Homo sapiens: one gene and its partner. The protein of the gene in region 2 interacts with the protein of the main gene of each other region in a pairwise test. Each region holds a gene or a part of one and is shown on either strand. Other genes may lie near its edges.

What was found.
Region 1: the proteins of MEGF10 (region 2) and VWA8 interact in a two-hybrid assay, tested with the Homo sapiens proteins (one large-scale study listed by IntAct).

The regions. Positions count from the first base shown.
Region 1 is NC_000013.11:41,684,130-41,689,383, reverse strand, and holds part of VWA8 (von Willebrand factor A domain-containing protein 8 isoform a precursor), read left to right. Parts: coding exon 1-30; intron 31-4,141; coding exon 4,142-4,337; intron 4,338-5,254. UniProt on the Homo sapiens protein: Exhibits ATPase activity in vitro.
Region 2 is NC_000005.10:127,457,350-127,462,567, forward strand, and holds the end of MEGF10 (multiple epidermal growth factor-like domains protein 10 isoform a precursor), read left to right. Parts: 3' UTR 1-3,873; downstream 3,874-5,218. UniProt on the Homo sapiens protein: Membrane receptor involved in phagocytosis by macrophages and astrocytes of apoptotic cells. Receptor for C1q, an eat-me signal, that binds phosphatidylserine expressed on the surface of apoptotic cells. Cooperates with ABCA1 within the process of engulfment.

The DNA.
Region 1 (5,254 bases), on a different chromosome or scaffold from region 2:
ACAATAGTTGTTGGTTTTCCAGATCTCATGGTAAGCACCCATTTTTTAAATTATCGGATAAATGTTTCTTTCCCTTAGTTTGACCTATAATCTGTAAGCCTGTTTGAGGGGTAATTAAAAACATAATTTCCTGGTAAACATGTTGGATCAAGTCTTCCTTCCAAATCAGTCAGTAGAAAATATGTTATACCTAAATAGTTTCATTACACTTCAAAAATTAACATTGAAAGCGTAATGCAATGATAGAATTTAGTAGGGGGAAATGAGTATTCTCCATATGTGGGGGTTCATGTAATACAGTTTAAATGCTTAACCTTCTGATGGTAATTTTCTGTCATGTCTTCTATAATTTTTTAAAGTTAATTATTTTTCCATCTACACATTCTATATATTTATTTATTAACTTTTATTTTAGGTTCAAGTGTACGTGTGCAGGTTTGTTATATAGGTAAATTGCATGTCACAGGAGTTTGTTGTACAGATGGTTTGGTCATCCAGATAATAAGCATAGTACCTGATAGGTAGTTTTTTGATCCTCACCCTCCTCCCACTCTCCACCCTCAAGTAGGTGTCAGTATCTGTTGTTCCCTTCTTTGTGTCCGTATGTCCTCGATGTTTCGCTCCCACTTGTGAGAACATGTGATATTTGGTTTTTTGTTCCTGTGTAAAGTTAAATTTGTTGGATTGTCATTATTGTAGATTAAAATTTTCAACAGTCATGAAGATAGATTTATTTTCCATTGAGTTTTGCTCTGATTTATCATATCTTTGCAGCATCCAGGTTATAGTATAATGGCTAATTGTCTCAATTGATTTTCCTCTTAGATGGGCCCTTCTGTTATCTCCTATTACCTATAAAGGAGAAGCTATTTGAATTGACTGTAGGTGAAACTGGGCGACATCTTCCTCTGATGGAAATGTGGGGAAATTAATTATAAAAGTTATTTCAGTCCAAGTTGCCATCTAACAACCTTAGATGTAGCTCCATGTGTTCTGACTAAACATTTAATTTTTATAATTTCCTTTGTAGCTTTTAGATGGGATGATAGAATTATTTAAAGATAAAAATATGGGCTCTGCTTGACGGTACTCCAATTTTGTATGCCTCAACATTTTAATATAGTTAATGAATGCTGGGTACTTCAGGATATAAGATTTGAAATCTAAAACTCAATGGATAATGTGGCTTAGGACTCTGATGTATGTTTTCCTAATTATCAAGTTAAAAGCATCTGCTATCATGTAATTCAAAATGAAACGTTATTGAAATACAGTGTTTATAGCAGCCTTGATATGAAAGAGATGTGTTTTATATGCTTTCTACAATGTTTGCTGCTGTAAAAAAAAAATTGGGACTTTTTCTGGAGATAAAACTATTTTAAAAATTGATCTTCTAATTACCTTCTTCTGATTGAAGAAATCAATATAGAAGTATAATGTTATTATAAAAAGTTAGAAAATAAAAGCTAAGTTAAGGCACTGTTTCTATTAACCTTGTAGAAATTCTTATAGCCTGTAACACTAGTGACCTTGTTAAATTAAAAGCTATATCCCTGCTACTTAGTGTGGTACCTACCACATAGGAGGTATTTAATGAGTATTTGTTAAATAGAAGATTAGAGTCAGCTAGGCAGCCTTTAAGATGACAGTAATACTTTTAGGCCACAACAGAATAGGCAGTGTGCTGCTCTAAGCCCTTTCATACATGATAGTTAATTTTTACAACAATTCTATGAGGTTTTACAAATGAAAAAAATAGAAACAGACAGAGCTTATATCCCCTAGGCCACAAAGATTATAAGCAATGGAATTTGAGCTCAAGTGTGACTAGCCAGCCCTCTAACACACATCCTTTTACCACACCACACTGCCTTCTTGCTTTATGTGAACTTCTTTGGATTATGTATGAAACTATTGACAAATGAGTATGCTACCTCTTATTAACTTTTTCATAGAGTTATCAGTGGCATCTAAATTATTACTTGTATAACTTTTAAAATCTAATACCAAATAGCTATAAGAATCTGTAGCAAATATCATCCTCAATGGTGAAACATCAAAAGTATTTCTTTTCTTTTCTCATTAGAAATAAAACAAGGTTGCCCACTGTTACCATTCTATTAAACATGGTAATAGTGTCTTAGACATGATATATAAAGAGAAAATTGATAAATTGTGCTGCATCAAAATTTAAAATTTGAGCTCTGTTAAAAGACACTGTTAAGAGAATGAAAAGACAATCTACAGGCTGGGAAAAAATATTTGCAAACCACATTTCCAACAAAAACTGGTATCTAGAGTCTATAAAGATTCTTAAAACTTAACAGTCAGAAGGCAAATAGCCTAATTTTACAAATGAGCAAATAGTAGGCCAGTGTGAGTTATCAAAGATCAGAGCCCAAGCAAGGTAAGGACATCTATGGTGGGGAGAGGTAACCACTAGTGATGGACGTTAAGCCCAAACAGGATGAAGATGGCATTCCTGTGAAGGGGCAGCCTGGAATGGGATGTAGGAGCCCAAGTAAGGTGAAGTATGTGTCCCTGTGTGAGTGCAGCCCCTATGGGCTGTCAGAACCCAAGCAGGTAGAGTGGAGCATCTGCCCAGGGAGTAAGGTTAGTGGTGGAGATGGGAGATGGGTCACATACAGTGGACTTGAGCAAGAAAGTAAATATATGAAGGGTAACAAAATACATTAAGGATAATGAAAACAAATTTTTAACTGTTGGAGAGGGGAATTACAGATACTGAAAGGAAGAAAACTAGAATGAACCATGTAGTTATTAGATTGGAATTGGATATATTTTTGTGAACTCATAGATTTCAATGTATTTAGGTAGATATAGAAGTAAAATTAAAGGTAAATGTGAAAAAAAAAATGAGCAAAAGACTTGAACAAACACTTAACCAAAGAGGATAGAGGGATGGCAAATAAGTACATGAAAAGTTATTGGACATCATTAGTCATTAGAGAAATGCAAATTAAAACCATGATGAGATACTAGTACCTACCCGTTAGAATGGCTAAAATAAAAAAAACACTGACAATACCAAGTACTGATAAGGACGCAGAGAGCTAATGCAACTCATTATTGCAAGGGCAAACAATAACCAGAACATCTCTGAAGAAGGACCAGACAGAAGTACTCTTCCTATTAAATTTCAAGGATAATTATAAAACTTCAGTAACTAAGACCATGTATTGGCCTGGGAATAGAAAAATGCACCATAGAACAAAATGCAGTGCCCAGAAACAGATACCTGCATATAAACTGTGTTTTATGATACTGTTGCTATGGGCAAAAGTTAGTGGTATTTGGACAATAAACTATACATGTGAGAAAAGGATGAATGCAGATCCCCACTTCATACCATTCACAAAAATTAATTCCTGATAGGCTAAGGACTTCACTATGAAAGATAAAGCCTTAAAACTTTTAGAAAAAGCATAAGAAATTATCTTTATGATCTTAGGAAGGATAAATACATACGTGGTAAAAATTTAAAGTAAAGCAAGGGAAAAATAACACAAAATTCCAGAAGAGTTAAATCTAGGGGAGAGAGAGAATGACTGGGAAGGGGCCCAATCACTTTTGAAGCCCTCCCAGGGCTTTAAAAATGCTAGTTATGTTCTATTATGTATAGATGTTTACTTTATTTTTTAACTAATTCCTATATTTCTTCTGTTTAGTTGTAATTGATTTCAAGGTAAAAAATTTAACTTGTATATTTTACACTTGTCTGAAAATTATGATTATTGACAAAGCAGCTACCTCCTTCCTGTACCACATCCAAATGACTTTATTTATTTTTTGTTTGTTTAAGACAAGATCTCCTCAGTAGCTGGGAATACAGACATGTGCCACGATGTCTGGCTGATTTTTGTATTTTTTATAGGGACGGGGTTTCACTATGTTGCCCAGGCCAGTCTCAAACTCCTGAACTCAAGTGATCCACCAACCTTGGCCTCCCAAAGTACTGGGATTACAGGCATGAGCCACTGTACCCAGCCAATAATTTGATTTTCTTATACCTGTGAAACATTAGTTTCCCACTAGTATCTGCTTAAAGGGCTGCGTTGTTAAGGTTGTGGTGAATGTAGTATATGGTACTTCAGTACTTTAATCTCTTTCTTTTTTTCAGTCACCCAGTGAAGTTTATTCTTGGAAGAGACCATCATCTTTGCATAAACGAAGTGGCACTGATACATCATTCTATAGAGGAAAGAAGAAAAGGGGGACTCCAAAACAAAGCAATTGTGTGACTCTTTTAGATACGAATCAGGTAGTGAGGATTTTACCCCCAGGAGAAGTCCCTCTAAAAGATATCTACCCAAAAGGTAAGAAGGAACTCACCAATTCCTAATTTACAAAGGTGGTTTAAAGTAGCTTCCTTTTGGTAGAGGATATTTAATTTATCTTTATCATTTCATACTTATAAAAATTGATCATTCCGACAAGTTTAGAAGTAACTAAAAAGACCTCTCCGTATTCAGAAAGTTCTTACTCATTTTCACAGTGTGTGGTTGTGGCCACTGCTGTTAGAGCTCATCTTCATTTATATTATAATATATGCAGTAACTTTACCTAAAAGATGTTTTCACAGAGCCTTTTAAAAAGTCTTAGTATATTAGGCATAGAAACTGAGGCCTGCCTTTTGTCTTAAACTCCTAAGACTGAAAGTCAGGGGCTTATCGTGCAGACTGATTCACTTAACAGCACTCTGAAAGTCAACTTATATTTATTACTGCATAAAATATCCAATTCCTGGGATGATCTCCTTTCCTTGTATAAATTCACTTACTCCTTAAAACCCCATCCTATTGTTAGCATGCTCTCTAATTTATACATGAAGATATTCTGACACAGAACTAAAATAACTGGCCCAGGATCACCCCACCAGTGGACAACAGTGCCCAGATTTGCACCACAATCTTCTAATCCCAAGTTTAGATCTATTCTTATTGAACCACACTGGCATTCATCATAACAGATAACTATGAAAAAGTTTGATCATTGATTAATTGACTTTTTTTTTTTATGTCACAGTGGTAGTGATATATTATCTTGTGTCTATATGCATTGTATTAGTGTGGACTTCACAAATATAATGCTAAATGTATTATAATAATCTGTAACAGGGTTTGAAAAGTTCTGATTATATGATAACATTTGGAATTAGTTTCTTCCCAGCTGAAACTCATGGAAAATAAATCACCATTTCCTTAAAATTTTTTTTGTGGTAGAAGAGGCAGAT
Region 2 (5,218 bases):
CCTTTCCAGAACTGCTGTTTGGTTCTTCTCCATCCTCAATTTTGCCACTTTCATGTGAATGTTAGTCAATTCGGTGGGCAATTTTTGGACATGAACCAGAAAGCTGAAAGCTGAGGCTGACACGGACTGTAGGTGCTTTTTGTTCAGGTGGATTCGAAGGAGTTAGAGATGTGATTTCCCATTGCTGTTAGTTTTAGAACTATACCCGTGAAGCATGACTTATTGTAAGATGTTGGCTGAAAGCATGAACTTGCAGAACTCCCTCGGAGACGCAGGTTGCAGTGGACATTGGGATTGTTGCTTGAAAAATTAAAATTTGAATATTTTCTCTCTCATTTGCATCATACAGCTCTACCTAGGATTGTACAGTTTACCATAAAATTTACTTCATGAAAGTGGGAATCACTGAACATGTAGAAGACAAGGAACATATTGTTAACTCCTGATTCTTAACTTTATTCAACTGGACTCAGAATTGTAGGGATAATATGAATGCAGGAGGAAACATTCTGTCAGGCGGTATGACTGGACAGACTTTGAATATACTCTAAAAGTGGACAGAAAATTTACGAAAATCTTAGATTTTGTTTAGAATGAGAAAATATACAATTAGAATTATTTTAGAAATAGTAGGAAGTATTGCAGAAGTCAATACACAAATGTGCCAGGCAGAGGTGGTTTTCTCTGTTTGACTCTCAACCAACTTCAGATCTATGACATTATTCTGATCACTGGCTCCATCATACATATTCACCACTTGAGATTCATAACATATCAATAGTTATTTCATAAATATAGAAATGAAATAATTTTATTTTTGACAGACTGGATGGAATGAGTGTGTAATGATTGATAAAGGTTGTAAATTTTAAATGCAAGATGACGCTTACGTTCTGTAAACCATTAGTAATACATGCTGTAATATAGAATTAGTGGAACATTTTGATTAATCTTTCCCTAGAAGTGACTGAAATATTTTTGTGCATATTTGAGAAAGGGAACTTTCCTTTTATTAATTGTCAATTTAGAGAAACTATGCTTAAGCTGGTCTTTTGCATTGCTAATGTGACATGTACCCAACTTTTCATTAATTTGTATTTCCATTTTTAAATTGCATATTCTATGTTTTGTAGTGTTTGGATTGTTAATGAAAAAATATTATATGTTCGTTATTCCTTGTATTATTGCCACTTATCTTTTGCTTGATAAAAATGCGTTGTTCTTTTTTCTTTTGGAGGGACAAGATGAAAATATATAATTTGAATTGATTAAAATTGGTCGTTACTAAAATAGTATAGTAACCACAAGTGATTGGCTTATAAATGAAGTAGAAATGCTTTTTAATATTCCAAAATAGAGTTCCTTTTGATCTGTTGGTGCTGAGCCTTGGTTAAACCAGGGAGAAGGGGAGCAGAAAGGAAACGTTGTTACTGATGAGTACCACAGACTCATCTTAAAAAAAACTCTCATTATGGTGATCATAGAATTGACCATCCAAACTGGGACACTCTTGAGAGTAAATGGAGGGCATTATTAATAATTATCTTGTAATGAACTTAAATCTGGACTGTTCCAGGCAAACCAGACTTATCTTGCAATATGAGAATGCTGACACAATGCAGGAAAGCCAGTTTCCCTTTTGTTGATCTACTTGACCAAGCAAAGGGGCTGAAAAACTGAATAAGGAAACAACTTTATAAGAGAAACAGTGGTCTTCAATCTTTTAAAGACATGAAATCCTATATGGCATTCTGTCTCAGTGAGTCAGTTAACAAATACGTATGTGCAACCCTTCTGCTAGTAGTGCACATAAGTGATTATCCCTGCCAGGTATCGAGTTGGAATATCCAGTTATTTCATGTCACACATCGGCACGTATGATGGTGGTTTGGTCAGATGGATAATACAGCAGACACACTTAGAACACTCACTGCACTGGTGGCTGTTCATTTTGAGGAACTCCAAAGTCAATTCAAGGAAATAAGGAATGACCTGGAACAGGCCTTAGAAACAATTGATTTATTCCAATAGTTAACCACTGGCTGGCTCCCAACTCTAGGTGATAGGCATCTAATTGAGACATGTGTGAGTCAATAGCCATCGGGGTCCTTTTTGGTGAGAAGAAATAAGACATTTTCTCCCTTTTAAAGATCATCTCTTCAGAGCTGCATGGTAAATTTGAATTTCCCCATTGTTCTCTAGAGCTAGGTCAAAAAAACAACTGTTTCTTTTCTTATTCCACTATTAATAAATTGAAAGCTTGCTGTACAAAGGCAACAGCAACTTAAAAAAGAAAATCTGGACAATAGATGTGGACTCCAAGGGGCCACTGCCATCCCTTCCTGTGTGCTCTTTTTGACAAGTAAATCACTCCAGTTAGCTGATGTCCTGAAATGACATTTGTACCTGAGGCAATTCTTATTAGAGCTTACTCAGGACTTTTCAAACATCAGGACACACATAGCAATTTGGATGTTGTAAAACTACGTGTTACATTTGGAGAGGTCTTGTTGAGAAGGCAAAATTTTCTAAATATTTTGATATCAATTTGGGTAAAGAAAGGAATACTTTTGTTAGAATGAGAATTAAAGAGAAAACAAAAGAATCTTGGCAAAATTTTCCCTCTGAAATTACAAACTTTAGGAACTTTTCCAGATGTATCGAATTTAATTTGACATTGATGTCACTCTTCATACCAAGTGAATCTATTCTCATGAACTTTGAACCCATGTTAATTTTGGACCCTATAACTAATTTCCTTTCTGTATCCCATGGTGGTCAAAGCAGTAAAGGAGTTTAGAGATACTTAGCAAATGCCATTCATATAGTATTGTTAGCCAAACTATTATTCCTTCCTTAGAAGTTGATGTATCAGAAAATTTATAAGTTATTTGTATTTATATATAAGTACATCAGAACTTGCCCACATGATAACTCATGTTTGCTTTAATAAGGAAAATATGTTATTTGAGGTTAATTATATGATAGTGAGGAACATTTTACAATTATTTACAGTGTTTGACATTAATTGCTGTCCTATGATACAGTAGTAATGTTAACAGAGAGTTTAATATGTTTAGCATTATCTTTATGGAATTTATATTCACCAATTTCAGGAAAACCAACCATAGAACTTTATAATAGGACAGTTATAACCTGACTGAACCAAATCCATCAGCATAATGACTGTGTGTTCTGAGAAATGCAAACAACTTTATGAAAGTGTGGTCATCTTGACCCCCAAAGAGCCACAGTAGCTGTCAATTATTGAGATTTTTAAATGGTAAATATTGCAAAAGTTAAACAAGGGTACCACAATATCATTTATAATTGATGTCAATATTAGTAGTCCACTTTATGCTTAAAATAAAATCATAAAAAATCAAGTTTTAAGGTTATATTTTTTAAAATAATGAATTTTCTATCTCTAGGCAACATGTCTTTATTATTCAAGCTGAATGTTTAAGAGAGATTTTGGTCTTAAAGGCTTCACATCATGAAAGTGTACATGCATATGCAAGTGTGAATTACGTGGTATGGATGTTTGCTTGTTTATTAACTAAAGATGTACAGCAAACTGCCCGTTTAGAGTCCTGTTAATATTGATGTCCTAACACTGGGTCTGCTTATGCTAGTTCAGTATTTGGTCTAGGCTTCATTTTGATATGACTGAATTGCAATCTATATTTTTAAAAAGAAAAATCAAAATACATTAGGGTTTACTTGGTTGTGGCAAACAAACAAAAAATGCTTTCAGTGTTGAAATATCTCTATTTTCCAAAGATGATAAACTTTCATCGTTCTTAGCCTACATTGTCATTTATATCACCAAATGAGTTTATAGATTAATGCAATAAACTTTCTAATAAAAAACTCTAGTGTTTCTTTCTATATCTGATTCTACTGTTGATTAATGAGAGAAAAAACCTTGTGCTCGTATGGAAAAAATAATATTTTTTCTTGTTCTTGAAGGACAGAGGCAACATTTTATTCATATTTGGATCCCTGGAACTCAGGTTAGGGGCTGATAGTCAAGTCTTCTGTAACTAGCTTTAGGTTATCTTATGTGGATTTGCTTTCTAAATCTCAGTGCCCATTAGTACTTTCATTTATGACTAAAACATCTTTGAAACATTTGCATTATAGCACTGCGGAGCAGGGATCAAACATGAGTAAAACATTGTTTCTTCTTTCAATAGCTGTTTCTTTACTGGGGCCCTGAATGCCAAGCACAGCTGGGGATGCAGAGACGTGTAAGGCATGAGCTGTTTTGGAGTCCTTCATTATTTAGTTAGGGAAATAAAGCATATGGCTGGCTGTGTGACTGGTTCTGTGGGTTAAGTTAGCCTCTTAAGGCCTTGGCTTCTATATTGCAATACATTGGAAGTAACAGTACAATAAATTTCATAGGGTTTGTGAGAATTTAATAACTTTATACATACAAAACACTTCAGTGCCTGGCATACACTAAGCACCTCGTAAATGTTAGCTGACATTGCTATTATGAAAAATTAGCTAATAATATGAACCAGTTTGCAATAACCAGATGAATGATGGGGCTAATAGATCAGAAGAGAGTATTTAATGAATATTATAGAAGCTATACATTTGAATGACCATATCCTGATCTATTTTTATACTAGCACAAAATTCCATACATATTTTATTTCTAGAGATGTAATTTAGGAAAGCAATAATATGTTTATATTTTCCAGTAACATGTTATCTAATTGGAATTAGGAATGCTTTTACAACATTTGGATGTGAGTTTCTGAGGAAAATGGTGACCTGGGAACATTCTAGAGAATATGACCATCCAGAAAAAGTCAAGGGCTGGTTTTGGCAACCAGAAGGGGTTCTGCATACAGGGAGGCATCAAGTCCTTGAAAGAATGTGCCAGTTGGGGCTAAAGATGTAAATGAGAGTTAATGCGAGGTGGAGAGGGTGCATGATGAGAGTCAGCTATCTTGGGTGGATACACAAAGACAAGGGAAGGTAGAAATGTTTCTGCTGTTTGCATTATGCGGCAATGAAAGAGGCAAACTGTTCCCCGGGTGATGGCACTTAGGAGAGGCAGTTTCCACATTGGGCTGAGGTCAACCTATCTCCACTTGGACTCGTGAACTGAGGCCTTCTGCCACTTACATCAGTAAAAGGGATAAGGCTGGGTTTGGTAGCTCATGCCTGTAATTCCAGCACTTTGGGAGGCTGAGGCAAG